Linked DNA regions of Homo sapiens. The protein of the gene in region 4 interacts with the protein of the main gene of each other region in a pairwise test. Each region holds a gene or a part of one and is shown on either strand. Other genes may lie near its edges.

The links.
Region 1: the proteins of CCDC146 (region 4) and TRIML2 interact in binary tests that used the Homo sapiens proteins (3 or more experiments, as listed by UniProt).
Region 2: the proteins of CCDC146 (region 4) and GRAMD4 interact in binary tests that used the Homo sapiens proteins (3 or more experiments, as listed by UniProt).
Region 3: the proteins of CCDC146 (region 4) and KRT38 interact in binary tests that used the Homo sapiens proteins (3 or more experiments, as listed by UniProt).

Annotation. Positions count from the first base shown.
Region 1 is NC_000004.12:188,106,584-188,114,578, forward strand, and holds the start of TRIML2 (probable E3 ubiquitin-protein ligase TRIML2), read right to left. Parts: upstream 3,021-7,995; 5' UTR 2,660-3,020; intron 1-2,659.
Region 2 is NC_000022.11:46,672,379-46,679,398, reverse strand, and holds part of GRAMD4 (GRAM domain-containing protein 4), read right to left. Parts: intron 6,557-7,020; coding exon 6,402-6,556; intron 6,024-6,401; coding exon of another isoform or gene 5,901-6,023; exon of another isoform or gene 5,753-5,900; intron 5,730-5,752; coding exon 5,585-5,729; intron 4,743-5,584; coding exon 4,649-4,742; intron 3,932-4,648; coding exon 3,847-3,931; intron 2,800-3,846; coding exon 2,731-2,799; intron 2,253-2,730; coding exon 2,148-2,252; 3' UTR 1,824-2,147; coding exon of another isoform or gene 1,722-1,823; 3' UTR 1-1,721. UniProt on the Homo sapiens protein: Plays a role as a mediator of E2F1-induced apoptosis in the absence of p53/TP53. Plays a role as a mediator of E2F1-induced apoptosis in the absence of p53/TP53. Inhibits TLR9 response to nucelic acids and regulates TLR9-mediated innate immune response.
Region 3 is NC_000017.11:41,437,969-41,445,115, forward strand, and holds the start of KRT38 (keratin, type I cuticular Ha8), read right to left. Parts: upstream 3,016-7,147; 5' UTR 2,954-3,015; coding exon 2,462-2,953; intron 2,276-2,461; coding exon 2,193-2,275; intron 1,392-2,192; coding exon 1,235-1,391; intron 891-1,234; coding exon 729-890; intron 649-728; coding exon 523-648; intron 346-522; coding exon 125-345; intron 1-124.
Region 4 is NC_000007.14:77,117,797-77,125,614, reverse strand, and holds the start of CCDC146 (coiled-coil domain-containing protein 146), read right to left. Parts: upstream 3,001-7,818; 5' UTR 2,883-3,000; intron 1-2,882. UniProt on the Homo sapiens protein: Essential for sperm flagellum biogenesis and male fertility.

The DNA.
Region 1 (7,995 bases), on a different chromosome or scaffold from region 4:
GCTACACGCCCTCCAGGTGACCGGCCAGGAGACGGTCTCCCAGGTCGCGGCTCAGGCAGCGCCACTGGAGGGCTTCGCCCCGGAAGATCTATCGTGCTCCTGGCAGGCGCGTCCCTGCAGGGCGAGGCCACCCTGGACCAGGGCGAAGTGGGAGGCCCCGACTGCCCGGGAGGCCAAGTCCGTGGTTCCCCGGCCCGCGCTGGGAAAGTGACAGGTCAGACTCTTGCTAAGGTGGCCAAGCGAGAAGACAGGCCGGGCTGAGCCGCGGGTGCGGTACCACCGGCGCTTTGTCGACGTTGTGCCCATCTTTGGCAAGAAGAAGGGCCCCAATGTCCTTCTTAAGTCCTTTGTAATTCTGGCTTTCTCTATTAAAAAAGCCACTTAGCTCGAAAACTTTTTTCTCAGAAAAATGTTTTTGTTTTTATTATTTTATTAACTTATTTATTTATTTTTGAGACCGAATCTCTGTCGCCCAGGCTGGAGCACAGTGGCACGATCTCAGCTCACTGCAACCTCCGCCTCCCGGGTTCAACCGACTCTCCTGCCTCAGCCTCCCGAGTAGCTGGGACTACAGGCGCGTGAAACCACACCCAGCTAATTTTTTGTATTTTTAGTAGAGACGGGGTTTCACCGTGTTGGCCACACTGATCTGGAACTCCTGACCTCAGGTTATCTGCCCGCCTCAGCCTCAGTGCTGGGATTACAGGTGTGACCCACCGTGCCTGGCTTGTTTTTATTATTTTAAATGAATAACTATAAAATGCAGTTTTAAATTTCTAATACAGTAAACATAGATATTAACGCTCATAAACAAAAGCTTATTGGGATCTTCGTCAATAATGAGTGCAAAGGAGTACTGATTCCAAAAAGTTGAGAATCTTGGCCTGAAAAGGCATATTCCCCACAAATAGGACTGTGAATGAATGCATCCATAATTTTGATATGTTTTGTCAGTTTCCCAAGCACAAAAGTTGTACAATTTTGCACTCCAAGCAACAAATTAAAAAGATGTTAAACTTTTGGATCATTGCCCACTGGCTGGGTGAGAAATAGTGTATTCATATATTTTCAACTTCCATCTGTTATATTATTAATATGTCTAAGCCTTTTATTTTCATATGCTAAAAAACCATTTTCACTTCTTTTGCTGTGAAGTCTATGTTCAAGCCTCTCTCTCAGTTTATTCCATCAGGTTTGGCCTTTTTGGAGGGAGGGGTCAATTTTAAGAGAGAGCTATAGATCCAAGTTCCTGTAAATTGTGTGAGTTGCAAATACTTTCTCCCTCCTTCCTTGTTTTTGATGCTCTCATCCTTTCTTCTGCTTAGGTCTTTGAAATCCCTGCTGGTTTCCCGTGTCTTAGGTCCCTGAACATGTCCGAGATGACTCCACTGAGTCACCAAAACAAAGAAATTCACCAACTCAAATTTTTCCTTGAGCTCTCAGCAGCAGTTAACATAGCTGACCACACCCTTCTTCCTAGAATGTTTTCTTCTCTCATCTGTCTGCAGCTGACATTCCTCTAACTTGTCTGGTCTTGTTCTCCGTGGCCTTTTCTGGTCCCACATCCTCTGAACCTCTCAATCTTGGGGTGCTTCAAGGTTGAGTTCTGGTCTCCCAGTCCTGGTCTCTCCCTAGGTAATCTTACTCGTTTCTGAAGATTTAAGTTCCATTCTCCGATTTCAATCTCCTGCCCAATTCCCAACATTTTTGCAATAGAATGTCTAAGGAGCACTCAAAATTAACATATCTAAAGCCGCTCAGGATCTCAACCCAGTGGCTCTCTTCCCCCAAACTCATTCCTTTAGAGCCACAGTTTAAGCCTTCCTTTCACCAATTCAACTATTGTTTTCCAAATTTATATTCTGTCCTGCCCTCCTCGTCCATCTCCAGCTCCTCTCTGCTCAACCACCAGAATACTATTTTAAAACCAAAACCAAGTGAGCAGGTTTGTGGTCACTTTCTATGGCATTAGAGTAAGATCGAAGTGGGTAATAACCCCGTCCTATACAATCTGGCCTCCTGCCTTCTTCTGATCTCTCTATAGCTTTCCCCCATCACTGTCAATCTAGCTGCCTCTAATTCATCACAGCCCTTCCCCCTTCCGTGGCCAACAGAGCTCTTCTCTCATATTTTTGCAATTCCAGCTGCCTCTTCTTTCTTCTCTTCAGTTCTCAGCTCAAATGTCTTCCCAAGAGAGACCTTTCCATCACTACTCAATTTGAAATACCTTCCCACTACTCATCTCCTTATTTTATTTTCTTAGTAGCGAAAAGATTTTATCTTTCTATGAACAAGTTTACTTGTGGGTCACTCTCCATCCATAAGAAACTAAGTCCTTGAGATGCCCTGTGTCTACATCTGACATACTCGATGCACAATAAATATTGTAAACGATATTTTATGTTAAACCAGTAAAAATTGAAGGTGTAATGAGAGAGGGACAGAGACTAAATATTTTTACAGAAACAGCAAAGGAAAATTGACGAATTAAGTCCCCAGCATGTTGTCTACCCTTATTTTGTTTTTCCTAATATTTTTCTTCAGGCTTTTTCCTGATAACACACAGATACACACACACACACATAGATTCTAAGATCAAGTTTAGAAATCTAAAGAAACAATTATTAAGAAAATGATCTATAGAGAAAATCTCACTTACTTTCTTTGTAGCAATCCTGGGTATTTCCTTTTTTTTTTTTTTTTTTTTTTTTGAGACAGGGTCTTGCTCTGTCACCCAGGCTGGAATGCAGTGGCGCAATCTCGGCTCACTACAGCCTCGAGCTCCCAGGCTCAAGTGATTCTCCCACCTTGACCTCCTGAGTAGCTGGGATTACAGGCGCTGCACGACCACACCCGGCTAATTTTTGTATTTTTTGTAGAGACGGGGTTTCAGTATTTTTCCCAGGCTGGTCTTGAACTCCTGGGCTCAAGCAATCTGCCTGCTTCAGCCTCCCAAAGTACTGGGATTACAGGAATGAGTCACCACACCGAACCAAGGTATTTCCTTTAGGGAAAAAGCTGGAACAGTGGAGACTGAAGAGATTTTATCTGTTCAATTCCTCCCTCAGCCCCGCCCTCACACCATCAGGAAGGCGTCTGTGAAGTTTCTTATCATATTCACACAATTAATCTCATTAGAACCACCTGAGTTTATTAAAACGCAAGCCTCTTCACAGGGTCTCTGATTCCAGAAATCTACGGTGGGGTCCGTAATTTACATTTTTAATGGACTCCCAGAAAATGCTTAATAGCCCTGACCTTGGTTGGATAAATATCTTGTTTTATCTCCAGTGCCATGTACAGTGCCTAACACCTCTAGCTCCTTAAGGTTTGGGGTTTTCTTTCTTAATGAATCTAGTGTATATTGACAATTTCACAGGAAAGAAGCCTTCGAGCTAACACTCAAGACTGTGTTTGTTCCTTAGTAGAAAATAATGCCTGACTTGTTAGTTTCTAGAACGTTTGCTGGAGAAGTGTTCATTCCAGTATCTGTGGAAAGAAAAACCAAGAGTAGGGATAACTGCCTATGGAATCTGTCACAGATGGGAGGTCAGGGAACAATCCCAGATAATTCATACTTGATATTTGGCTTCAGTGAGGAGGAACTCTTCACAGCTTTCTAAGTTTTATAGTTTTGTCCCCGAGGGTTTTTATTGCATCAGTCAGTCAATCCCCTGCTAATCAAACCAGGGAGTTTTTTTCTTTATGCTGCTGACAGGATAATGAGAATTCTTCTGCTTTGCTTATCTGATCTTTCAGAACCTGGTTCTACCTTATGGAATCTCAATACACCGTTTCTCTTTTTCTTTTTTCTTTCTTTTTTTTTTTTTTTAGATGAGAGTCTCACTCTGTTGCCTAGGCTGGAGTGCGGTGGAGCGATCTCGGCTCACTGCAGCCTCCGCCTCCCAGGTTCAAGCAATTTTCCCACTTCAGCCTCCCGAGTAGCTGGGATTATAGGCGCCCACCACACCCAGCTAATTTTTGTATTTTTAGTGGAGATGGGGTTTCACCATGTTGGCCAGGCTGGTCTCAAACTCCTGACCTCAGGTGACCCACCCTCCTTGGCCTCCAAAAGTTCTGGCCACCGCGCCTGGCCATACACCCTTTCTCTTATCTCAGATGATTACCTACACCCACTCTCTTTTCCAAAACCCAATTCCCCAGCTTTCTTCAAATAGACCACATTTATTCCTGTGCCCCCTCCCCTCCTCAGCCAGTCCATCCTCCTTTACTTCTCTTATTTTTCTAATCCAATCTTCCTTTCTCTTCTAAGCCTGGGTACGGCCAACGTCTGTGAAGATACTCACACATACTTGTTGTCAGATACTCTGTCATTTACTCTCACCATCCCTTGAGCTTTCATAACTCTTGAGCTTACTCATCTTGACAAGAAAACTTTGTAATCTTTGAATCAAATGGAAAATAAACATCAAGCATATTGTCAGGTTTTGAAGTCTCTTAAAGCCTGTTTTAGAGTATTAAATGCTTAAATAAATACTTATTAAAGCCTGTTTTACTATTAAATAAATATTTATTAATAATTAAATTATTAATTCTAGAAGAGTCAATATTTTAAGATAATTCTAAAAACATTACAAAAAAGTGTGCTAAACCCTTATTTACTGTTACATGCCCCACCTGTTGCATGCTCCAACCCCGTGAGGTACATCTGCAGCTGATGAAGTAGATGACGTAGAGATTAAGTCACGGGATTAAGTAATTGACCAAGAGCACTGGGTGCAGAAAATTGAAGATATGGAATTTGAATCGGGTGCCAAATTTCATGATATTTCCTTATTATAATTATTTGTCCTTATTAAATATTAATCAAATGGCTTGACAATTTACAAAAAAGATGCCTCAAATTTGTATGACAATTTATCACGAGATGCTTTCATAGGGCTAGAGTAATCACATTACAAGGAACACAGATCATTTTAAGGTAGTTAGATTTTTCATAGGAAAACTTTTCATTAAAATGAAAATCCTGAAGAAATGTAGTTTTTTTTCACTGTCAAAGAACAAATACAATTATGAATGAGTGAGTCATTGTTCTCCTGAGTCATTTCATGAACTTATAACAGTCGTATCCCAGCCGGGCACTCTGGCTCATGCCTGTATCCCCAGCACTTTGGGTGACCGAGGCGGGTGGATCACTTGAGGTCAGGAGTTCGAGACCAGCCTGGCCAACATGGGAAACCTCATCTCTACTAAAAATACAAAAATTAGCCGGAAATTGCTTGAACCCAGGAGGCGGAAGCTGTAGTGAGCCAAGATCGTGCCACTGCACTCCAGCCTGGGCAACAGAGCAAGACTCGGTCTCAAAAAACCAGGACAAAACAAAAACAGTCCTGTCCCCTTTGTTAGCCACATCACCTTCACCACTCGCCCCAGGCTGGCATACTCTCGGCTTCTGGGTGGGATGAGTATGGCTGGTGCCAAACAAGGCTGTATTTGTTACTTTGGACCAAATCTGCGGCAGGAGACTACCACCTCCTCCCATTCCAGAAAAGAACAGCTGGAGGCGGGGGTGTGCTGGTTGTGGTCCCAGTGTTATCACTCATCTGGAAGGTGTGGCTTCTCTCTGGCTCCTTTTCTCCAAGGCTGCTCCATTAGAAGCAGGGGCTTGGCTCTCACTGGTTTACTTCCCACAGCTCTAAGAGGTCCAGAAGTCATGTTCAACTGCTTCTTCCTTGCTTAAGAAAGCATTAAAACTTAAGAATCAGGCCAGGCGCAGTGGCTCACGCCTGTAATCCCAGCACTTTGAGAAGCCGAGGCAGGCGGATCACCTGAGTTCCGGAGTTCGAGACCAGCCTGATCAACATGGAGAAACCCCGTCTCTACTAAAAATACAAAATTAGCCGGGCGTGGGCGCATGCCCAGCTACTCAGGAGGCTGAGGCAGGAGAATCACTTGAACCCAGGAGGTGGAGGTTGCAGTGAGCCGAGATCGCGCCACTGCACTCCAGCCTGGGCAACAAGAGCAAAGCTCTGTCTCAAAAAAAAAAAAAAAAAATTAAGAGTCAAACATTATGGGGGCCGGGCACTGTGGCTCATGCCTGTAATCCCAGCACTTTGGGAGGCCGAGGCAGTTGGATCACAAGGTCAAGAGATCAAGACCATCCTGGCCAACATGGTGAAACCTTGTCTCTACTAAAAATATAAAAATTAGCTGGGCATGGTGGCGGGCACCTGTAATCCCAGCTACTTGGGAGGCTGAGGCAGGAGAATCGTTTGAACCCGGTAGGCAGAGGTTGCAGTGAGCCGAGATCACAGCCACTGCACTCCAGCCTGGGCGACAGAGCAAGACTCTGTTTCAAAAAAAAAAAAAAAAAAGAATCAAACATTATGGTCGACCTCATGATAGCACAGTTACCCATTTGTTGTTGTAAGTCAGTGCATGCTTATCTGAACCCAACATGTTCAGTTTGCTTGCACTCTTTTGTAAGGAAGATAATCCTCCTAACAATTCCAGCAGAATTAAGAGGTCACCTTCACCTCACCTATTACAACACCGGGACAAGCCCTATCGGTTTTCACCAGACAGAATACCCTCAGCAAAAGGAACGGGCTGGTTTAACTGAAATCAGTGAATCCTGAGCAAATAAACTTCGGATTTTTGCCAAAGTTCACAGGCTGAGGAAAGCATCATGTCTCATGGATGAAGTTAGACTGACGTGGGCTCTGATTCCAGCTTGGCCACACACTTGTCATGACCTGCAGCAAGCCACTGAACGCTGAGCATCACTTGCACCATGAGTCACCGTCACCATCTTCCACAAGTCTCTGAGCATTAGGAGAGGTTCGATGAAATACACGTAGGAGCGAGGAGGGTGGTAATGAGAACAGAAATTGCTCTCTGAATGAGTATGCTTCCTCTCCTCACCCAGAGTCATTCTTTTCAGCAAAGTCAAGAGCACGGCCCTCTACATAAGGGAGAGTGCAGCCGGGAAGGTGATGGAGGTGGTAGAGATGAATTATTGGCATATGGGAAATAAAGAGATCTTTGATGCCCTTTTCAGTTTCTTTTGTTTAATAATATATATATTAGTAATGTAGTAATTGCGTAATTGATATCAAGGCATATATTCAGCTTTTATTAATGTAATGTTTATCTGAAAACTTTTAGGCCACTGGTATAATTTTTTTTTTTTTGATACTGAGTCTTGCTCTGTCACTCAGGTTGGAGTGCAGTGGCACGATCTCAGCTCACTGCAACCTCCGCCTCCTGGGTTCAAGTGATTCTCCCACCTCAGCCTCCCGAGTAGCTGAGACTACAGGTGTGTGCCACCATGCCCAGCTAATTTTTGTATTTTTAATAGAGACAGGGTTTCACCATATTGGCTAGGATTGTCTCGATCTCCTGACCTCGTGATCGACCCACCTTGTCCTCCCAAGGTGCTGGGATTACAGGTGTGAGCCACCGTGCCCGGCCACTGGTATAAATTTTTAGGAAGAATTTTTTTCTGTTCCATTATAGTCAGTTTCAACAATAAAGCCTCATTGTCAAGATATTAAAATCGCTGGGCATGGTGGCGCCCACCTGTAGTTCCAGCTACTTGGGAGGCTAAGGTGGGAGGATCTCAAGCCAGAGAGGTCGAGGCTGCAGTGAGCTATGATTGTGCCCCTGCACTCCAGCCTGGGTGACAGAGTGATACCCTGTCCCTAAAATAAATAAGTAATAAAAATGTAACAAGATACTAAAATCTACATGCTGCTCACTATCATTGGAGGATATGCATCTTTACACCCTCCTGAAAGAAGGAGTCAAAAAGCCTCCTCCACACTTTAAAGTTATGTGATAATCTGGATACCCTTCAGGACCTGGACCTGTTTAAAAAGACTGGCATCAAATGTTGTAAGGGATTGGATCTCAGAGAAAAAAGCAGCTTTATAAATAAACTTGACCAGAAGTTATTATGCCGGCAATATTCGTTCAAACAGAAAATCTGGCCAGGCATGGTGGCTCATACCTGTAATTCCAGCACTTTGGGAG
Region 2 (7,020 bases), on a different chromosome or scaffold from region 4:
GCCCTCCCCCGACCCCCCGCTCCCCGAATGTGGCCCTCCCTGGGGGCTTCGGCCACACCTGGCACGTGGTCAGTTTTCATCTCCCTTTCTCCACAAAAGGGACTCGAACTAAACCACCCGACGCTGGTAAAGCCCCATCTGCCCCAGGGACCCCTCCCGCTGTGTTTGGGGACTGAATCCCAGCACCTAGGAAGAGGCGCTCATTGGCCCCGAGGCCCCGGACCCATCCTTGGGCACTGCCGGGCCCTGGGGAGAGAGGTGTGGCCATTGTCTGCGGGCACTGCCTCTGCAGCCGCCCCTGGGGGTGGGTCAGTGCCCACCCTGTGTTGCCTCAGGCGCCAAGGTGGGGTTCACTGGGATATGTCCCCCTCCCCTGGTGCACCAAGAGAGCCAGTCCCCTACAGGAGCCAGACCCACGGCTCAGAGCGGGTTCTGTCCCCATTCGGGAAAGGCCGCCGTGTGGTCATCCTGACGCCAACGTCCGCGCAGTCCAGAGCCACGGGGGCTCCGCTCCACCGCCTGGGATAGGACATGTGCTTAATCTGGTGATCGGCGCAGCTCCCCCCAAAGCACCCCCGGCACCAGCGTGTGACTCTGCGGCCCCTCGTGAAGGGGGTGAAACCAGCCCATGCCGCCGGATCCCTCACCCACACCAGCAAATGAGGATCGGAGCAAAGATAAAAATTACATCTGAAAAAGGATACAAAAATAAGAAAACCAGCTTGCTCGCTGTAAAAAATAGAATCTTCTGTTTCTTCAAAAAACAACAATCTCAACGACACCCAAGGGACTCAGGACAAGCTGAGGGAGCTGCGGGATCCGCCCCAGCAGACACGCAGGCCCGCGGGGTGGCCACCTCCTTCCAGGAGGCCCAAGCCGCCTTTCCCTCCCTTCAGCCCAGCGCAGGCGGCCCCAGCAGACCAGGCCTGCGGGCGCTCCCTCCACAAATGCCACCTTGTTCCCGGGAAGCCCAGGCTTCCCTGGGGCAGGGCGGGGGCTGGGGGGGTCTGTGCCCGGACCGGCACCGGCTAGGCACGCGGGGGAGGGAACGCTGTCGCATGTCGGCTGCAGGCAGTGCAGGCCCAGGCCTCTGGGCTCGGCTCACGGTTGCTCCCTAAAGCACAGGGGCTGCCAGAGCCTCTCGGATGGCCCAAAGGCGGCTGCAGCCTGGGCCACCATGGTCCCGGAACACTCCTCCCCACTTCCTCCCCCAACCAACCCAGGCAACCGCAGCCTGGGGGCCATGTGCCAGACATGCCACAGTGCTCGGAGCACCTCCAACAGCCTTCGCGGATGTTCTCCTGGGCCTTCCAAAGAGCAAAGTGTGAGAAAGATGTGCTTTTACCTGCACCATCCTGTGCCCTTACTGGTCCCCAGCTACAGACCTCCTGGCCGGCGTGTCAGGCCGAGAGCAGCAGGCAGGCCCTTACAGACGCGGTGCTGAGCGCCCTGGAGGCCAGCAAGGAAGGTGCCACCAAAGACACTGAGGGCAGGCGAGGGGTGGGCCCTTCTCACCCTCTCTGTTCCCGTGGAGCGAGTGTGGAGCGCAGGCAGGGTCACTGCGCCCGGCCCCAGCCCGGCACCAAGGGCAAATGCCACAGGAGGGTCTCATGTAAGAGGAAGGAGGGCCGCCAGGCCCGTTTCTCGGTGGTTGGTGAAAGGCCCCCATGTCCCTCCTTGACGACATCTTTCTGTCCCCAGGAGGAAGGGCCCCGCACTCTTCAGCTATGGCTTTGGTGGTGGACGAGCTTCTGGCCTCTGGAGAGCGGGACACAAGGTTGCGAGAACCTCTTGGGGTGGCTGGAGAGGTTTCTCTGTCCAGGCTGGAACGGAGAAGGGCAGGGCCAGGGGTCCTGTGTGTCTTCTCCACGGGCCCCCGAGGGCCTCTGCCCCCTCCCCCAGTCTGCGGGTGGCCCTCAGAGGCACCTGACGTGCCCTGTGGGAGAGGGGCACCCCCGTCCCTGTGAGCCCTGGCCCCTTCTTGGTCGATAAAACGCAGAGGTCAACACAATAGAACCACAGGTCCAGGAGAATTATTGCAAAAGCTCATGAGGATGTCCAATTGTTTCCACTACCAAATCGTAAAAAAAAAAAAAGAAAAAGAAAAAGAAAAAGAAAATTCCAGCAACGTCCTGGGCAAGTCAATACTAGCTGTCCCCGCCAGACGCTGCCGCTGAGGTGATCTTGATGTACTGGCTGAGAATGGTCTCGAAGGCCTCATCCCTGTGCACCATGGCACCAAACACGAGCGGCTGGCAGGGAAGAAATGCCACCAGTGAGCATGGCACAGCCAGGCTGGCGCCAGGACCAGGACCGAGACGAAGTCCAACACCAGCCCCAGGCCAGCACGCTAGTCACGTGGGTCTGGGTGCAAAAGACAGGTGTCTCCCCACCACCCGGAGCCAGGCTCCAGCCTTCAGGGGAACAGAGCCAAGAGGCAGAGGGGAGCCAGGCTTTAGCCCCGTGCCTCCCTCCTCCCAAGTCACTGAGTCAGGGGACCCCTGTGCCCAACATCCCTGTCTGTCCGGTGACTCGATGGCCCCAGCAAGATTTCCAACCCAACCTGGACGCAGCCCCAGGCTCTAGCTGCTGCGAGGGAGGGGGCGGCTTTGTGACCCTGCTGCCCAAACTAAAACTCTGGCTGTCTGCCCCACGCTGGTCCCAGGGTTGCTCAGAGTCAGGCCCCTGGGCCCACACCAACCCCTTGGCGGCCCCCCGCCCGGCACCTACTTTCTGGGTGGATGGCGTCGACACGGCAATCCCCATGCCTGAGCCTGGGAGGACAGACAGGACCTTGTACTGAAAGGCAAAGCGTGGCCGTCACCACAGGTCTCTCCTGGGGACAGGGAGGCACAGCCCTCCACAGGCCCAGGGCATCCTCCTCCACTGGGCACACAGGCAGCAGGGCCCACGGGCACCTGGGACTTCCAAACAACAGAAGGTAAGGGCCTGTGGACACCTCCTCACTTTGTGGCCGAGACACCAGACCTGTAAAGGGTCTGTCCCACCCCAGCCCAGACCGTCGGCCAGCTGGCCTGAGGAAGGTCAGAGACAAGCCGGCCTGAGGAGGCTGACGGTAGGCACTCAGCCCCAGAACTCGCTCTCAGGGCCTGGCACCAGGAGGGCCATCTGTCAGCACCGCCAATCCCAAGAGGCAGGCGGAAAGGACCCCAGCCCTGAACTCACCCCTTCTGGTCACCTGACTGCACGCTTTTTTCCAGAGCCGGGTGGGAGAGATGACCCACAACTGCCGTGGGGCCGGGAGTGCCCGCCGTGCCAATGCGGACATGCCCAGGACGCTCGGAGCTGGGAGGGAGCTGGGGGCCCTGACCACTCGGGCCAAGTGTGCCTGCCAGTGCCTCACTGAGCCTTCCCTGCCCCAGAAAACAAGGGACCACAGGCACTTGTGGCCACGCCCACCTGCTCATTCCATGCTACGGTAAAATGCTGAGAAAATGCCCAGAGCGGGCGCGACCATCTGAGCTCCCACCTGAAAACCTGCATCCGAGGCAGGGGCTCAGGGCCCCTGTGCTTTTCTTTATGGGGAGGGTCCCAGATACGAGGGGAACACAGCAGCCAGAGTGGGGCTTGGGTCCTGACCTCCTGGGCTCCAACCCAGCCCCTCCACTTTGAGACACACGGTCCAGGCAAGTGGACCCCAGGGCAGGGGCAGACCCACAGGGACATGGGGACTCAAGTCAAGGAAACGGACCATGGCCGGCCAGCGTGGCCGCGGCGCCCAGATGCTGACAGAGGCTGGCAGAAGTCTATAGGGAAAGCCTCGCCAGCCTCTGTCAGGTGACGAAGAAAACACGGGGGTTAGTGGGGGTGGGTAGGTGCACCAACCTTCTGGATGTCCGTGATGTCCACTAGCTTGATGACTTTGTTCCTCTTTGAGGACCCAGATTTGGAGCTTTCGAAGCACAAGTAACTGGAAGGGGAACGGACAGAGGCGTCGCCTGGCTCTTGAACCAGAGCACGCTCCCACCAGGTGGGGGTCTCCCGGGGCTGCCTCTCAGCCCCCAGTGGGATGGACAGTGGTGCTCCCTTCCCAGCAGACACAGAACCGGTGAAACACTCACGGCCACTGCTCTATATGAGACACTCACGGCCACTGCTCTGTGTGAAACACTCACAGCCACTGCTCTGAGACACTCACGGCCACTGCTCTGAGTGAGACACGGCCACTGCTCTGAGACACTCACGGCCACTGCTCTGAGTGAGACACTCACGGCCACTGCTCTGCATAAGACATTCACAGCCACTGCTCTGAGTGAGACACTCACGGCCACTGCTCTGCATGAGGCACTCAGGGCAACAAGGACTCAGGGCCTCAGCAATAGCAGGTCCCCACACGGTCCCCTCCTTGGGAGACTCTGCCCCTCGTCTCCATGAACTGCTTGGGCCCCAGAGAAGACAGCATCCCCGCCAGCCTGAGGGATGGCAGCAGTACAGCCCAGGCCACGTCCGGCTTGGAGACAACACCTTTTCCCTGGGAGCCCAGACAGCCGGCAAGAGCAGAGCATGGGAGAGGCCATGGCCACCACTCAGGAAAACCTGCACTGGGCCAGCCACGCCATCCCAGGGCCTAGGCAGCCTCCTGCGCCCCCTCCCCTGCAGCCACACAGGGCCCCACGGCTGCACTCACTTCTCCGTGACGTAGAGCACCCCGTTCCTGATGTAGTCCGTGGGCATCTTCCGGTCCCTGTTGATGAGGCAGCAGCGCCAGCCATTCTCGCACACTAATGGGAGAAGGCCCGCCTGTCACACTTTCCACTGGAAGTACCCAGCCTCTGACCTGACGCTGGGACCCAGGAGCCTGACTCTCAGATCCTGACATCCGCCCACCGCGCTCACGTCACACCCACAGTGAGAGGAAGGCGCGCCGGCAAGAGTGAGGTGGCCCCAGAGGGTGGAAAACAGATGTTTCCTCTTCAACAGGCACTGGCAGGGTTTTTAAAGTAAAAGCACCCAGGCAGAGCAGGGAGCAACAGAAGTCACAGTGTGGCCGGGACACCACCTCCAAGACCGGCAGGGTCAGGGCGCTGGGACACCACCTCCACCAAGACCGGCAGGGCCAGGGCTCAGCAGAGGACGAAGCTCCGTTCTCCGCAGCTGCCTCTGCAGCCGCTCATCACACACCTCGAGCTGCCCGGTTTAGTTTAACAGGCCCTCCCTTTGGGAAAGCTGACCTGTCCCCAGGATCCTGAGTCACCTGTCCCCTGGTGGCTCTTGTTTCTCCAGACACGATGGAACCAGGGGCAGACCCCCTGCCAGCGCCCTGCAGGCCCTGAGGCCTCGCCCTGGACTCTCTCCCCAGTGTGTTGCCTGCACGCCTGCTGTCAGGGGAGTGCTGCAGCGTGGGCGGCTCTCCCCACGGGCACGCCCTCCTCCCCTGTAGCCCGCAGAGTCCTCATGACCCCTGGCTCCTGCACTCCTCCTGGGGCAGTGGGATGTGAATGCCATCCTGAGGGCTCCTCTGGCCTGTCACAGGGCGACCCCGTCCTGCATCCACAGCGCCCCCCTCACGGGCCTTCAGTCTGTGTCGGCGCTCGGCCTGGCCTCAGACTCACGGCACACATACCCGCCAGCGGACGCTCGTTTTCTGTCAGATTGAAGATCTCGTGGAAATTGCCCTTCTTGGTGCTGTGGAAGCGACCGGCGTCCTCCTCTTTACCCAGGCCGGCCGGTGCGCTGGGTACGTAGCTCCGTGACGAGGTCGTCTGCAGCTGCCAACGGCAAACAGCGTCGAGGTCAGGCCCGCTGCCCACGCCTGCAGCACCCAGATGTGCTGGCCGCACACACACCTCCCCAAAAGCTGGGATCCAAATTTGGGAAGACGTTCCCGAGGTCCCTTCCGGCCCAGAGCGGCTCCTTCTTCCAGGCAGGGCCACCTCACCTCAGTGGGGAGAGCCCAGCAACCCTCCTGACTCATCTGAGCCACCCCGAAGGGAGCACCGAGGCCTGCTCATTCCCCGTGGTCCTGGCTGGGATGCTGTGCTGCACATCTGGAGGGCCTGTGACTGTGAATGAAATATGGCCCAGTGCCAGGCTGTGGCTCCAAGGGGGCCCTTCTCAAACTGCCTGGTCTCAGCGCCAGAGCCTCACTGTCAGGGATGGCAGGGGCCGGGCACCCCCATGGAGTGGTCACTCCCAGGCCTGCTGGCTCTCAGTCATCATGGCCAGTCCCCAGGTGTTGCCCTGGGCTTGGGAGGGGCTGGATGAGCCTCAGAAACCGCAGTGGTAACAGGGAAAAAAAAAACCCTCAAGTTTAAGGAGTCTATAAAATTGAAGAAACAGCCTCTAAATGAGCCGGAGGTGAACAGAGCACTGTGGGCCTGGGGATGCCCGGCTTCGTGGCCCCCCATCCCCCCATCCCCGCAGCTGGGGGCCGGGCTCACCCTGCGTGAGACTGCGGCGCTGGAGCGCTCCTTGAGCTGCGGGTCGGTGGGGAGACTCCTCCAGATGATATAGGGCGTGTCGTACTTGGCGCGCAGCCTCGGGCAGCGTTTAAAGATGAAATCAATGAGGAAGAACTTGATACCAGCATAGAGTCCTGAGGGCAGGGGACACAGCCTGCTCCATCTAGAGCTCTGCAGCTATGCCAGTCTACTCAGGGTGATGGTTCCGGCACCTCCCACCTCCCAGATTGGCACCCTCCACCCTGAGCCTGGATGTGAGAGTCCAGCTGCTCGCTCAGTCCTCACCCTGGATACCCCCAGCCTCGCTCCCCTGGGGCCCATTCGTGCTGCACAGTCTCAACCCCAGGCGAGGGCCCCACTGCCAGCGCCCCACCCACTCCCACTAAGACCCCTCAGCTCTGCTAGGACCCCCCCATCCAATGCCCCTCACTTCTCTCTCCAACTCCGCCTGGCTCAGGGCTGTTCTTGACCCACCTGAAACACTTCAGGACTGTGCCTCCTCTGCCCCAATTCCCCACACCTGACACCAAATCTGAGGTCCCTCCATGGCAATCCCTCCCCAAACCCCCTCCCACCTGCCCTTCTTCAACTGGGTGCC
Region 3 (7,147 bases), on a different chromosome or scaffold from region 4:
CGACTCACTGAAAAGGAGTGCACAGAGAGCCTCATTCTACATAGAGACAGCCCTTCTGCTGCCCTGAGGACCTCATCAGAATTGAGTAAATAATTTGGCCAGGAATTGCCCAGATCACACGTACTTGCAGTCCTCGCTTTCCAGAAGGTTCCGGTACGTGGCAATCTCATTCTCCAGCCGGGTCTTCACGTCCAGCAGCACCTGGTACTCCTGGTTTTGCCGCTCCAGGTCGGCCCGGATCTCAGACAGCTGCTCCTCCACGTTGCTGATGAGGCTCTGCATCTGGGCCAGCTCCGTGCCGAAGCGGTCCTCGGCTTCACACAGGGAGTTCTGCAGACAGTCCTTCTGTAGTGGGAAATAAGGGGATAAAATATACAAGGCCCCAAGGGAAACTGCTACATGCCTCAAATTTTGATGGTGATAACAGGTGGGAGAAACTTGGGTAGTGAGACCTCCAAAATAAAATGCTACTAGGCCATGGCACGGGGCATTTGCAGTGCAGTGAGAGTGAAGGACACGTACCAAGGTGTGCTGGGCTTGGCGCTCCACCTCCAGGGCATTCACCGTGCATCTCAGCTCCAGGATCTCCGACTGGCAGCACTGCAGCTCCTCGGAGCAGGACATGTCCTGCAGGCTGATGCCTTCAGACTGGAGCACAGAGAGACACGGTCACCTCCCTGCCCAGATGGAGGCCAGGTACCCCCTGGTTCTATACCCCCCCCACTCACCTGGGCTTGGAACCACTGTTCCACATCCTGGCGGTTGGTCTCCAACATGGCCTCATACTGAGCCCGCATCTCCCCCAGCACCCTGTTCAGGTCAATGGTGGGCTCAATGTCCAGCTCAATCCGGAGCTTCTCCCCCAGCTGACTCCTCAGAATCTTTACTTCCTGCAGAAGGGAGGAAGGGACAGACAGCCTGCATGAGGAAAGGGCCTTTGATGGAGCAGACAGCACCAGGACCCCGCCCCTGGCAAGCAGTAGGAGGGGAGTCCCACACACAAGCAAATGGGAAAGTCTTGCCCAGAGGGCATTCGGGAGAGCCCACCTGCACACCTTCCTCATGCCCAAGGCAAGTCTGCACTTTCCACAGAGGCCCTCTGGACCCTCAGACCCACCTCAGCCCTGCATCCTGATGCCAGCTGAGGCCAGGCAATGCTCTGAGAGCCCGGGGCTGGGGAGCTCCCCTGTCTGCCCAGTGCCCTCCCCAGGAGTTTGAGCGCCCAGGGCCACACCTGCTCGTGGTTGCTCTTGAGGGAGAGCTGCTCCTCCTTCAGGGACTCCTGCTGGGCCTCCAGGTCGGCCTTGGCCAGGGTCGCATCATCCAGGAGCTTCTGTGTCCCACACTTGTCTGCCTCCACCAGCTGGCGCAGGGAGCGCTCACTCTCCAGCCTTTCATCACAGGAGGTACAGGGTCAAAAAGAATGCCCCCAAGAGCCCCTCTCGGCTGCCCTGGCTTCCTACCTCCCACACCACCTTGGATCCTCATTTATTCACTCTGTTTAGCCCTCTGTCCTCAAAGGTGAATTAGACCCAGCCCCTCTTCTCAAAGAGCTCATGGTCTAATGGAGAAATCACAACACTACATTGCACAATATACATTTTTGCCATTGTATTCTGTGGCAACTGCAGTTCAGGAAGATCAACTGACTTGCGTAAGATCATGCATCTTGGGACCCAGTCCAACGCTCATGCCATTGCAGGGGCTGTCAGTTACCAAAGATAAGCAATAACCAGGTGCCTGATCGTGATCTGCGGCTCCTTATCCCTTGCTTTCAGCTGTCTTCCCCTCTCTCATTTTTGCCTAGGTACCTTATACCTGGTACCTTAGGGCTCCCTAATTAAATCTGGACAAAGACTCATCTGTAAGTGACTCCTCTGACTTATATATGAAACCCAATGGCTGTCTTGCTCAGTTCATCCTTCAAATCACCTCATTTTGCTCCTGGTTAATGAACTCAGGCTGCCTTATCCTCCATTTTAGGGAAATAAATGAAGGAAGACAAACATATATGCTTGGATTAATGAGGAGTTTTCCCTTCCATCTTCCATCAGCTTCGATTGTAATGAAAATTTTACTGTAGAGAATCTAGCAAGGAAGAAATGACAATGATTCCCTCACTCAACAAGTATTTGGGCATTGGGATGGAGGGTGGGGAAGGAGTCACCCTGGCCCTCCTCCGCCTGACTTACTTGATCCTAAAGTCATCGGCAGCCAGCTTGGCATTGTCAATTTGTACAATCAGCCTGGCATTCTCGGCCTTGCTGCACAGGATCTGAGGAGAACAGGAAGACAGTTCACACACAAAGCATCATGCCCTAGGCTCCTTCTCCACGTGTGGTGTCTATGATCATGTCCAAGAGAAACCAAGAACCCAAAGTTCTCTGAGCTTTACATGGATTCCTCCTGTCTTGCCTCTGCCATCTCAGACCCAGCACACCCAAGCGATCCCACACCTCACCTTCTGTTGGAGCTCCTCGATGGTGTGGAAGTAAGACTGGTAGTCGGGGCACACGGTGGACTCGTGGCACTTGCTCCTCTCGAGGAGTGTGGCCTCCAGCTCCGCATTCTCCTGCTCCAGCTGGCGCACCTTCTCCAGGTAGTTGGCCAGGCGGTCATTCAGGAACTGCATGGTCTCCTTCTCATGGCCATTCAGGGTGTTTTCACCATAGGCCCCACAGATTCCAATGTTGCCAGGAATGTGGCAGGTCCCTGGCAAGGGACAAGCAGTGTGGCAGGTAGGCGGCAGACAGAGGCTGGGGCGGCCCAGGGGAGTGGACCCCACACGGACTCGGTTGGCATGTGCCACGTTGGCCAAAAGGCACATGGGGGCAATGTTGGCCTCTGCCCCAGGCTGGCACCCAATGTCGATGGGAGAGACAGAGACATTTCTTGCTCCAGGAGCCATGGTGCAACCCAGAGGGCATGAGGAGCTGCTGTAGGAAGAGGTCATGGTGTTGGGCTGAGGCTGCACAGGAGCTTCAGATCAGCTGGGAAAGCTGAACCACTGAGACTGAAGCCTCCTCTCCTCCCAGCCCTTTTATACCCCATCCTGGGCGGGTGTTGGCTCCAATGCTTTGACCTCCTGCCTTGATTATCTACCTGTTGTGGTGCCATCATCCTGTTACTCAGCTGCTGAGTTTACCATGAAAAGTTTCTCAGCTCGTTAAAGGAATGTTGACGAATCTGAGGCCTCTTGGCTCTTTGAAATCAGGTTGGCTGTTGATGGGAGGTCAGAAGCTTTTTATTATCTTTCAAAGAAGCAAAGTTATAGCCATCAGATGCTTAGACCTTGACTGGGTTTGGCCTCTTTATGGATGTGTCCACTCTGGAGACACAAACTTTCCTGTTGGTCAGTGGTGTAGCAGGAGGACTAACCCCGGTGATGACAATGGTTCTCACTTGGGTTAAGACTCAACCAGCCTTCCCTATCCAGGGAAGAAACTGAGTCTTGGAATTGGTGGATGTTATGGCCTTGGGTTATCAAGAAGTCCTACATTTCTTCTTTCTTTAGTTGGTTGCCTTTCAGACTCACTTTGAGGAGCAACAAGACTTAGATGAATCCAGTCACTCAAAACACATCCCCTGGCTACGTCCCATATGCTACGCACCTTGCTGATGCTTGATATATAGTTGGTTAAGCACAAAATAGTTCCTGCCATTGGGGAACAACTGTAACTTGGGTAGACGTGATGTTTCAAACAAGGTATCTGAGAAGCTCATGAAAATGAGGATGACTCCAAAAACCATGGCTTATCTCGACCAAGAAGGGCAAGCTCAAGAAGCCAGAAATAAACAAAGAGAAATGAGCAATAATCTTACTGAACCTCAAATAAGAACTTGGTCATGAAAGTCAAAGGACATTGAGTGATCAGAGCCTCTGTGGGCTCTCTTCATACCTTGCTTCCTTTATTCTAAAGTCAGTCATGAGCCTTCACCCTATGAGCTAGGGGATTGAGCAATGATACCTTTTAATCTTTACTTCCAACCTGGGAGGTGGGTACTCTTAATTTTACAAAATAAATAAACAAGCCATTGAGGACAGTTTTCTAAGATCAACCTCACTATAAAGTATAAAGCCTATTCTCAACATCAGCTTCTTTCAACTCCAGAAACTGTTTCTTCACCTTGACCACCTCCAAATCCTCCACCCCAAGGATAACTACTGTGTCATTGCTAGAACTAAGAAGGATTCAAATTCCTAGAAACCGGGCAAGAAGTTGAAATTAAGATGTAAAACAAAAATCTGACATTGTGTATTTTTCCCTTTGTATCTCAGAAAATACAGATGTGGAGGTATTCATACAATAAAACAGAGTTTCTCCAAGGGCTAAATCAGAAGATGCCAGGGGAAAGTCCTGTCCCTAAAATGGTTATATTACACATTCCACATTCAGATAGTTCTTGGTACTAGGGATCCAAGACACATGGCTGCTGAGATCCCAAAACTTTTCTCCCAAAATTTGTGACAGAAGATACATAGACCCCTGAGACTAAGAAAAACCTAATGTGGAACAATCCAAAGTGATTATAACTAGAATTTTGGGAAAATGAGTTTTTGCCAGTCCCCTGAGCATTGAACAAAAGCTGAACATACACCTCTATAGGGATCAGACGTGCATATGTGAAACACAGGCTATTGGAGTTCTATCAAGAAGAAATACAGAATCTGAGAATTCAGTCCAGATTGGGCTTCTCAGGAAAGTAAGTAGTAGTGAGCGCTGACCTAAGGGTTATTCAGAGCTCACCAATCCATAACCCTTTACAGACAACATCATTGGGAGACATCACCAGGGCAGGCTGTCCCATCCTCCAGAGGCCACTGGGTGCAATCTGCATATGTTACATCTTCAAACACCCTTTTGTTACTCTCCTCCGCCTCATCACATAGCAACAAGCTTCTCTATAAATCAGAGAGCCAGGCTTTTAAAGTCATTTCCTTTGATTTGCTAAGTAGCACCCATCTTTTGGCTTTATCCTCTGCCCAGATTCATTCCATGGACTAAAAGCCACGATTTCGTCCATTCACAATACATGACTCATCACTGCTGAAGCCTTGTGTGTCCAGATGACACCCCTCTCTGCCAACTGGCTTGGGTCCTGGCTTGGGCTTCTACCTTGTACTGTTTTGCATAATGATACTGATGTTGCATGGCTCTTTGTAAAATCGCTTTGTTCCCCTGATTTGTATTTTCTCAAAGGAGGTGAAGGAGCGGGTGGGGATCCTAAGACTCTCTTCCTTCCCAACCCTTTAAAAAGAGTCCCTGTGGCCCCTGGTGACCGAATATGAGGCCAGGTTCAGTAACAAGAAGTGATGAATACAGAGTGTGAGAGATGGGAGCCTGCTGCCCTCCTTCATTCACCTGTGTGCACAACATTCTCTGTGTGGATTCTGACTTTAGACATGCCGATCTCTAGAGGCATGAAGTCTACTGCAAATGGAGGTGAGGAGCTGTGGTCTTGGAATGCCATTTTCACTAATTTTGATACATAGGGGCATATCTCAACCAATGGGAGAGAAAGGTATGGAGCTGTAGGCTAGCACCTGGAGATTGTGCCTAACTCAAAGTTTATCTTTTCTGTGTCATGGCTCCTACTGCTGGAAGATGCAGGGAGGCATCTAGGGAGTTGTGCCCTGTGTGGGAACGTCACCCATCACACATTGCAGTGAATGCAAAGATTTATGACAAGTACTATATGTAGAGTTAGTGCTGCCACATCTCCAGGGTGTTAGAAAATGGTGTCCCAAACAATCCTAGATCAAGAAACCATGAAGACTCTTGAGAGAAGAGGCTGAGCATATAAATGTATTATTCTAGGTATCCAACTCCTGAGGCTTTGATGAATGGAAAAGGTACACTTCTGTTCAAATTAAATATGATTTTATCTATATATGAATGTATGCTCATTTGTGATTAAGAAATACAAACTAAAGAGATATTGTTTTCTTATCAGGTTTTGCTAAGTTGGATAATAGCACACAGTGTTGGCATGAGTGTGGGAAACAAGTCCTATCCTCTCCTGTGGATGACAGTCACGAGCTTCCACCTCTGCACATAGGCACAGAAACCGGGGCCCGTGCGTTGGGACCTGTGAGCCTCACACCTGCCTCTGATGGCATCATTTGCTGCTCCAGGCTTCACTGCAATCGACCCACTTGGAGAGTAGCTCAGGAGGCTCACCCTGCCCTGGCAAGCAATAGTGAGGGAAGAGACTCCAGAAGATGAATTAGAAAGAGTTGGAAAATCTTTGAGAAGCAAGACCCTAAGAAGGGAAGAAAATATAGAATTCTGTTTCAACCAGAATAAAAACAGATCTTTGGCACAGGTCAAAGATCCTCATTGTGGAAAATATTGAACTGCTTTCTGTTGCTCATTACAAACCCATGATTATGAAACATGCTGAGTCTGAAACAGCTCAGTGGCCGTTCTCTGTCACAGATAGATTGAGCTGTGTGGGCTCACTCATGCTCTCTGCAAAGCCTTCTCTGGCTTCCCAGGTAGGCTGCTCTCCCTCTGCTGACACACTCTTCTCACCCTGGGAAACTGTGGCTGTATCAGAGGTGGTAGCTCCCCACCATGGACTTGGGATCTCCAGGACATCAGGGAGTTTGTCTCATTGCTTTTTCCTCTTTCATCTCCATATCCCCAGACTCTGGCACAGAGCCCGGCTACAGAGTAGGTTCTGCATCCATGTGTGTTTAATTATGTAAGCAGGTAATGAGAAACACAGTAGCACCAAGCAAAGATATTTGTATGCTGAAACAATGAAGTAAAATCATAGATTCTTAAGCAATGTGGATAAATACACAACCAGAGATATGCCGGCAAATTAGCTCTCTGGGGGGAAAACCCCTCCAGTTTGTAGTGTAAGCCAATTTCTGTGGTGTAAATACTCCCACAATAGCCAACTTCAAGCAAACAATATGATGTCACTGAATGTGGAGTTGGAAAGAGATGTGAAAAATCGGCTCTTGTGAGTTATAAGAGTTAGCTCCAGCGTACCACTTGATCCCACTTTCTAAAACCAAAATCCTGACAGTACATTTCTTACATAGTAATTTTTTTTATAAATCCTACAGAGAAACCAAAGGTAGATCACATTTGATGACACAGGCAAGAGACCTGCCCCTAGAGAAGAGGAAGGC
Region 4 (7,818 bases):
ATATCTAGATGGTAAGAAATCTTCTGCCCATCTGATTATTTGAGTCAGTTTTAGGAAACAATATATGCTAAGAAATGCTTTAAAATTGTTTTCTTATAAATGTAATATATTTTCACTATTGATAACACACAAAAAATTGCAGTAACCACTCATCATATCACTGCTTAAAGATAACAACTGTTATCAAGTGGTATATATCCCTCTGGAATTGTTTCTGTAAAGTATAATTTTATGTTAAATTTATTATTATTATTACACAATTGAGATCATACTATACGTGCAATTTTGTATATATTCTTTTCACTTTATATATGGACTATTTCCCATATCAAGATATGTTTAAATTGTTGCATAATATATCAGCTATATACTAATTTATGTAATACTGTCTTATTTGGGAGCATTTAACATTTTTTTATTGAGACAGAGTTTCACTCTTGCCGCCCAGGCTGGAGTGCAGTGGTGTGATCTCGGCTCACTGCAACCTCTACCTCCTGTGTTTAAGTGATTCTCCTGTCTCAGCCTCCTGAGTAGCTGGGATTACAGGTGTCCATCACTACGCCAAGCTAATTTTTTTAATTTTTAGTAGAGATGGAGTTTCACCATGTTGGCCAGGCTGGTCCTGAACTCCTGACCTCAGGTGATCCACCTGTCTCAGCCTCCCAAAGTGCTGAAATTACAGGCATGAGCCACTGCACCTGGCCAGGGAGCATTTAAATTGATGCAATTATTTTCTCTTACAAGTAACCCTATAAAACATAATTCCTTGAGCATCCCTAATTTTATGCTTACATCCCCAAAAGCACAATTTCTGAGTCATAGAAAAAGCTTTTCATTCTTATTGCTGAATTGAACTCTAAAAATTTTGTGCTAACTTAACACTCCTACCAGAAGTATATGTTCATGACCACAGAAATAGCTTTTTTAAACTAAGATGTGAAAATATCTTAGAAACAAACTCTAAATAAGGAGAAAAAAGTTGTATATAATTTTCTACTTATGAGGTGAATAATTTCATTTTTTCTTCAAAGGTGTCAGGAAAATGGACGTTTTGGTAGAGTGATAAAAGGGCCAGACCTTCTAATTGCTTAATCTTAATGTTTCTGAATCTGTTTCCCCATCTATAGTGTGAGGAGAATAATTTCCCTCCTAATTAGTGAGGATACAGTGAGATGACGCATGTGAACATGGTTTGACAATTATAATGTCATATGGATGGAAGATACAACTTTTATTAATCATTGTTGATATGTGGACAGATTTGATACTCATTATACTGTTTTTAAGTGTCTATAACTTTAACTATTTTATACCAATCTTAATATTAATAATTTTCTCCATTTTCAACCTTGTATGATCAGCAAAGTAAATTTTCAGTCAATTCTATTTGGTTTTTGTTTGAAAAAGTAAAATAATGATTATGCAACATAGAAAATTATAGTTCAGTTGCCAATTCCATTAACTTAGTTTGTCTCAGAAACGGAAAAATTACCATAGACACAGAATTAACTATTAAGAATTAATATTTAATCTAAAAATGTCTAGTGTTTCTACAGAAAATTTGAGTACATTCTCAACTTCCTTAAACCAGTGCCTTTTTCAAATTTCTTTTCAAAGTTACACCTGTCAATTTTCATAAAAAATAGTTTGAAGATTATTCTGAATAATTATAACCAATGAAACACAAAGACAAGAAAAGAACTATTGCAGTGGGCCCTTGCTGAACCTGAGCTAGCACCTATAATGAGTGAGTCTTCACCGAAAGAAGAATAAGGAGGGAGCAAGGACTAGAAGGACAGAAAAGAGGCAATGATAACTTAAGAGAACACTGAATTTTTAAAAATTTTAAAAAGGTAGTGGCTAGCAGAGAACCTGAGACTTGTACCCATGAGAACTTTAGCCCAGTCTATCTATCACGATAGCCCCAAGAATTCTGGTCATTGTACTTGGGTAAGGGCTTCAATTTTTTAAGGCACTTGCATTTTATGAAATGTTAGTGTTTGCAGGTGTCTTGGCTAAATAATTTAGGGAATACATTTTAGGAGGAAGTAGGGGCACAGAGGGGGAGAGAGAAACCAGGCAGGAAAGAAGAAAAAAAGAAGAAAATAAATCTTTCTGTTCCCATTATTTTACTGCCCATAGAATTATAAAAGGTAAACACACACACACACACACACACACACACACACACACACACACACACACACACACCTTATAGGGTCATTTAGAACCATCTTTCTTCATTTTAAAACTAAAGAAACAGGTCTAGGTGACACAGATGAAGCAGTGGCAGAGCCAGGAAAATAATCTGACCCTTGTCCCTGCTCTTTCCACCGCACCATGGTGACTCTCTTTTTTGTGTCTTTTTTTTTTTCACTCTAAAACTGATGATCATTTGTAGTCAAAGAGATCAATGCTATTCTCAAAACAAGTTCTGATCTCTCATAATTTTCTTGGTAACTCAGAATCAATGTTAAGTACGTTGAAATAAAAATACAGTACTTTACACGGTAATTTGGTAGACTGTGCACCACGGTCCCATCCATTTTCTTACTTGATCCTCACAAAAACCCTTTGAGGCAAGGCAAGGAAGGTATTATCATCTACATTTTTAAAGTGAGCAAATTAAAACCCAAAGTAAGGTCACTTAGGGTCAGGACGGAGCAAGTACTCTATTCCTATATTTGGAATATAGGAGGGAATACACTTCCAAAGAGGCAATTCCCTCAAAAAGCACCAATCTTGCTCTTTACTCTCTTACCAAGGCATTCTCCATGCCCTGGAGATGCCCGCACTAGGTTAGTGAAGCTTGGATCTTGACATCCACATAGGTTACTCCTAGTTTGCACCTAGTTGTCAACTTAAAAAGCGCAGTTTCTTACCCCTTCCCTTGGTCCTGATCCTTATTTAGGCTCCTATTTTTCTCTTTGGGATTTGGCCTCCTGGGTCTCACTCCAAAGCTCCACCCTCTCCAAACAAGAAGTCGCGTCCTTGGTATCCAAGGTGACCATGCAGCTTTACCCTCGTTGCCCCCTTCCGTGCTTCCCATTGGCCAGTGGCCTCCCATGTACCGCCCCTCCAATAGCCAATGGTCTTGAAACAAAGGGCGCCCGCCTTTCCAGCGATTCTAACACCTGCCCTCTTACCCGTGCTCCCCTGCGCATTGCCTCCTGGGATATGTGGTTTCTAAGAGGCGGAGCTCTGCGACTTTCCACCGCTTTAGAACTACGTATCCCGTCGGCCTTAGCGAAAGGGGGTGGACTTAGGCAAGGGGTCCAGGTCAGAGTTCAGAGCTTTCAAATCCCAACTTGCCCCTGGGGATTACGCAGCTGATGTTTACATCGCCTAGTCAAGCCAACCGGCTCGCTCTTGTTTCAGCAAACCCTGACTTACGTCTCCTATTTGACTTGAGGCGGCACAGTGGCCAAGTCGATTGGCCGTGGCAAGTGACCCTCCCTGTGGCTGAAGTGTTCTGAGGACTGGCGAGAGAGGCGCGCCATGCTTGCCCCCTGTTCAGGTTGGGAGCTTGGCTGCTTCCGTCTCTGTCTCCGTCAGGTCCGACTGTGGGCTGGCGCTGGGCGCTGGTCTTGCTGGGCTTGCCAAGCCAGGCCGTACAGCTCAGGTAGGGGCGAGCGCTGGCCCGGATCGGAGACTGAGGTCCCTCCGCCTGGCCCGGCGCGCCGAACTCTGAAGGAGTGGACACTGCAGGTGAGCCCGTTCGGTCGGCTGCGGGCGCGGCTCCCGTGCCACCTGGCCGTGAGGCCCCTGGACCCCCTCACCTACCCGGATGGCGACCGCGTGCTGGTCGCGGTGTGCGGCGTGGAGGGCGGCGTGCGGGGCCTGGACGGCCTGCAGGTGAAGTACGACGAGGATCTGGAGGAGATGGCCATTGTGTCTGATACTATCCACCCCCAGGCGTCCGTGGAGGTGAACGCGCCCCTGAAGTTTGGCAAGTGAAGTGAAGTGAAAACGGGTTTGGGTCCCAGGGAACGCACAGTGAACTTAATAAATTTGGTCGACGTGCACTTTTAATTGGTCCTGGCTTTCTAAACCTAATTTACAGTTGGCCCCTTCGGAAATGCAACTTTTCCTCTGTTCTATTCTTGAGTATCCGAGTAGTATTTAAAAAATTAGGTTCCCAATTATAGAAATTTTATACATCGAATGGAAACACGATTTGGTATAATCCAGGTCAAATTCTATTTCTGGAGCCGCTTGTGTTCTTCTTTATCCCGTTGTCATTAGCAAACTGGCTTATTTTTCAAGGTTGAAGTTTCTTGACAATTCATTCAATGGTATGGCAGTCCATCTACATTTCCCCTTGCTCACAGCCTGGGGGTGTGTCCCAAAACAGCCCTGTCAATAGGATGTTCCAGGTACCACCTGGTTTGAGTATTTGGTTTTAGACGGGCGCCCAGCTTCTTACTGTTATGTTTCCATTCTTTTTGGCCTAAGTTTTCCATGAGTAGCAAGCTTTGAAGAAAAACACATGGTAAGCCTGCCTAGGAAGCTTCAATAATAATGCCTGCAAGATACCTTTCTTAGGTTTTCCTAAATGGCAAGCCACTGTGTACACACACTTTTCTAGGAAGGGCTCCCCAGACTGTCATTCTTCCTGGGACTGAAGGAAGATATTGATGATGATGATGATGGTAATAATAATAGCATTTAGCATTTTTAAGATCATCTTTTATAATGCTTACAGTTGCCCAAATAGTAGATGCCGTAGTCCTCCCTTATCCACCGTTTGGCTGTCTGAGTTTGTTACCTGCCTCAACTGTTGTAGGAAAATATTAAGATATTTTGACAGATCACAGTAATATAACTTTTATTACAGTATATTGTTATAATTGCTGTATTTATTATTATTGTTGTTCATCTCTTACTATGCCTAGTTTATAAATTAAACTTGATCATTGATATGTATACAGGAAAAAACATAGAATATATAGGATTTGGTACTATTTGTGGTTTCAGGAATCAAGTCGGGGGGGCGGGTCTTGCCTACTTTAAGAGAAATCATCAATATTTATGTTAATTCCAAATTAAATATCAGCGTTTTTAATTTTTAAAATTTGTATACAGCGATGCCTGCAGTTACATCTTAAATAGACAGCCAAGGATGGCATTTGTAATTCCTTATTTTCCAAACTTGCTTCATGTACCACTGCCATTTGTCCACAATCTTGTGGGGTTTTTTGTTTGTTTGTTTTGGTTTTTTTTGAGACTGCATCTCACTCACTCTGCCATGCAGGCTGGAGTACAGGTGCACAATCATGGCCCACTGCAGTCTTGACTTCACGGTTTTAAGCAATCTTCTCGCCTCCGCCTCCTGAGTAGCTGGGACTACAGGTGCATGCTACCATGCCTGGCTAATGTTTTTGTTTTTTTGTAGAAAGGGAGTTTTGCCACATTGTCCAGGCTGGTCTTGAACTCCTGGGCTTCAAGCAATCCTCCTTCCTCGGCCTCCCAAAGTGCTGGTATTACAGGCATGAGCCACGGCTCATGGCCTAATCTTGTAGTTTTAATAGTATATATTAGGTTTTTCAAAGTTGTTCCCATTTTTAAAAAATTACTTCAAATACCTTGTGATATAGTTGCATGGTAATATTTTCATTTTTTAAGTATGAAAGGTTAGACATAGGATTTGAAAACCTAAGTCATGATCATATATACTGGGGAAGAGGCTTCTACAGTCTTTCACAGGAGTACTTAACAGAATCGTAGTCTCCTTTACTTCCCATCTATGTTAGTTCTCTTTAGGTGATTTAGGCCAGTAGAAATAACTGCTCTGTTTCTAAAAACGGGCAGAAAGGCTATTGTATTTGGTCCCGTTGCCGTGGTAGAAGACCCCTTACCTTTACAGTATGCACTTTCCAGGATTCAGCAATATTATGGACATAACTGAGGAGTTGGGTTTCTAGGTTAAAATGCTTTGGAGCTTATAAACTGCAGTACTAACTTGCTTTTTTCTTTTTTTACTTCTAGGTTTAGATATCAAGTCATCAGGGTCTGGCTGTGTAGAAGTTCAAAGTATTGAGGGTGATAATTGCAAAATTGAAACAGAGCATGGGACTAGCATCTTGCAGTCTGTTAAGGTATAGCATTTTTCTAATTTTATTTCACTATTATTTTTTTAAAAGCCTTAAGCTATGAATCGTACTATCAAACTCAAGAGATTCTTCTGTTTTTCAGAACATTGTCATTTATTCATCTCTCAGAAAGTCCTTGGCAAACATTTTGCCTTGAAATCAGTTCTAGTAAAGTACAGAGGTTATAGCAGTTTTGAGGTTTTGCCTCAAATTTCTTTTTGATTTAATTTCAAAGTGTACAGTGAAACTAATAGTATTTTCCTAGTATTCTGAAATCTTACTAAAGAAATTTTAGTTTCCACAAATGATTTTCTTCCATTTTATTAAAGAGTAAGGAAGAATCTTTGTGCACTATAAATGTGCTTAAATATTAGATGACTTTAATCACATTTTTAATGTACCAGGTAGCTAGCTCATTACTTAAGGATTAAGTAGTTATTTGTGCAAAGTAACATATGATTCATCTTGTTTTGTAATTAAATTTTTTTTTTTTTTTGAGACGGAGTCTTACTCTGTCACCAGGCTGGAGTGCAGTGGTGCAATCTCAGCTCACTGCAACCTCTGACTCCCTGGTACAAGCAATTCTCCTGCCTCAGCCTCCCAAGTAGCTGGGATTACAGGCATGCACCACCACACTCAGTTAATGTTTGTATATTTAGTAGAGACAGGGTTTCACCATGTTGGCCAGGCTGGTCTCGATCTCCTGACCTCGTGATCCGCCTGCCTTGGCCTCCCAAAGTGCTAGGATTACAGGCATGAGCCACTGCGCCCGGCTGTAATTAATTTTTTTTTTTTTTAGTGTTTTCTTTGTAGAGACAGGGTCTCACTGTATTGCGCCAGGCTGGTCTTGAACTCATGGGCTCAAGTGATCCTCCTGCCTTGGGCTCATGAAGTGCTGGGATTACAGGTGTGAGTCACCATGACTGACCTATATTTAATTTTTTAAAGATTAGACTGGTGTTAGCTGTAAATAGTTTGAAATACCTCTCTGATAGGTGCTAGCTTATCGTTACTCTTAGTGCTTCTTGCATTTGCATAGTCAAAACTTGATACTTTTGTGAACTTTGAAAGCATGCAATTTTGTTGAAGTCAGTCATCTTTGCTTCATAATTGCAAAATATTTTCATTTTTAGATTTCTAAACACTAGTTAGAATAATTTGATGCATTTTTAATTTTTACATATTTTTTCTTTCATCCACCTTTATTTGCGTATCTGCCATCAGCATGTGTCCACATATGAATCATTTCAAATAAATTTTTGGCACAAATATCATAAAAGATTAACATTACCATCACAAGTCCTTCTAGCAAAATAAGTTGGTTCAGATTCTTGTTGTAAAAGATTGTATAATAAGGTCTTCATGTTGAATGACTAGGTGAGGATATCATAATTCTTTTTTGTCCTTAGAAATATTTTGTTCAGTCATTGATACTTAAGTTTCAGAAAACTAATCTAGACTTGTCCTCTGAAGACTCAAGAGTTTGAGATTTCCAATTTCACAATCAAAATTAGAATCTAGTATACTGCTGTCTCTGCATTTATGTTTTGATTAATCTGATAGTTCTGAAAGATCTTTCTCTGTTGATTTTCTTCTTTTATGCCATTGTAGGCATAAAATTAAAAATGGTTTCTTAGCCTTGGCAATACAAACCTTTTCAGTCAGGTGATTTGTTGTGGGGGCCTGTCTTGTGCAGTATAGGATATTTAGCACCATCTTTGCCCTC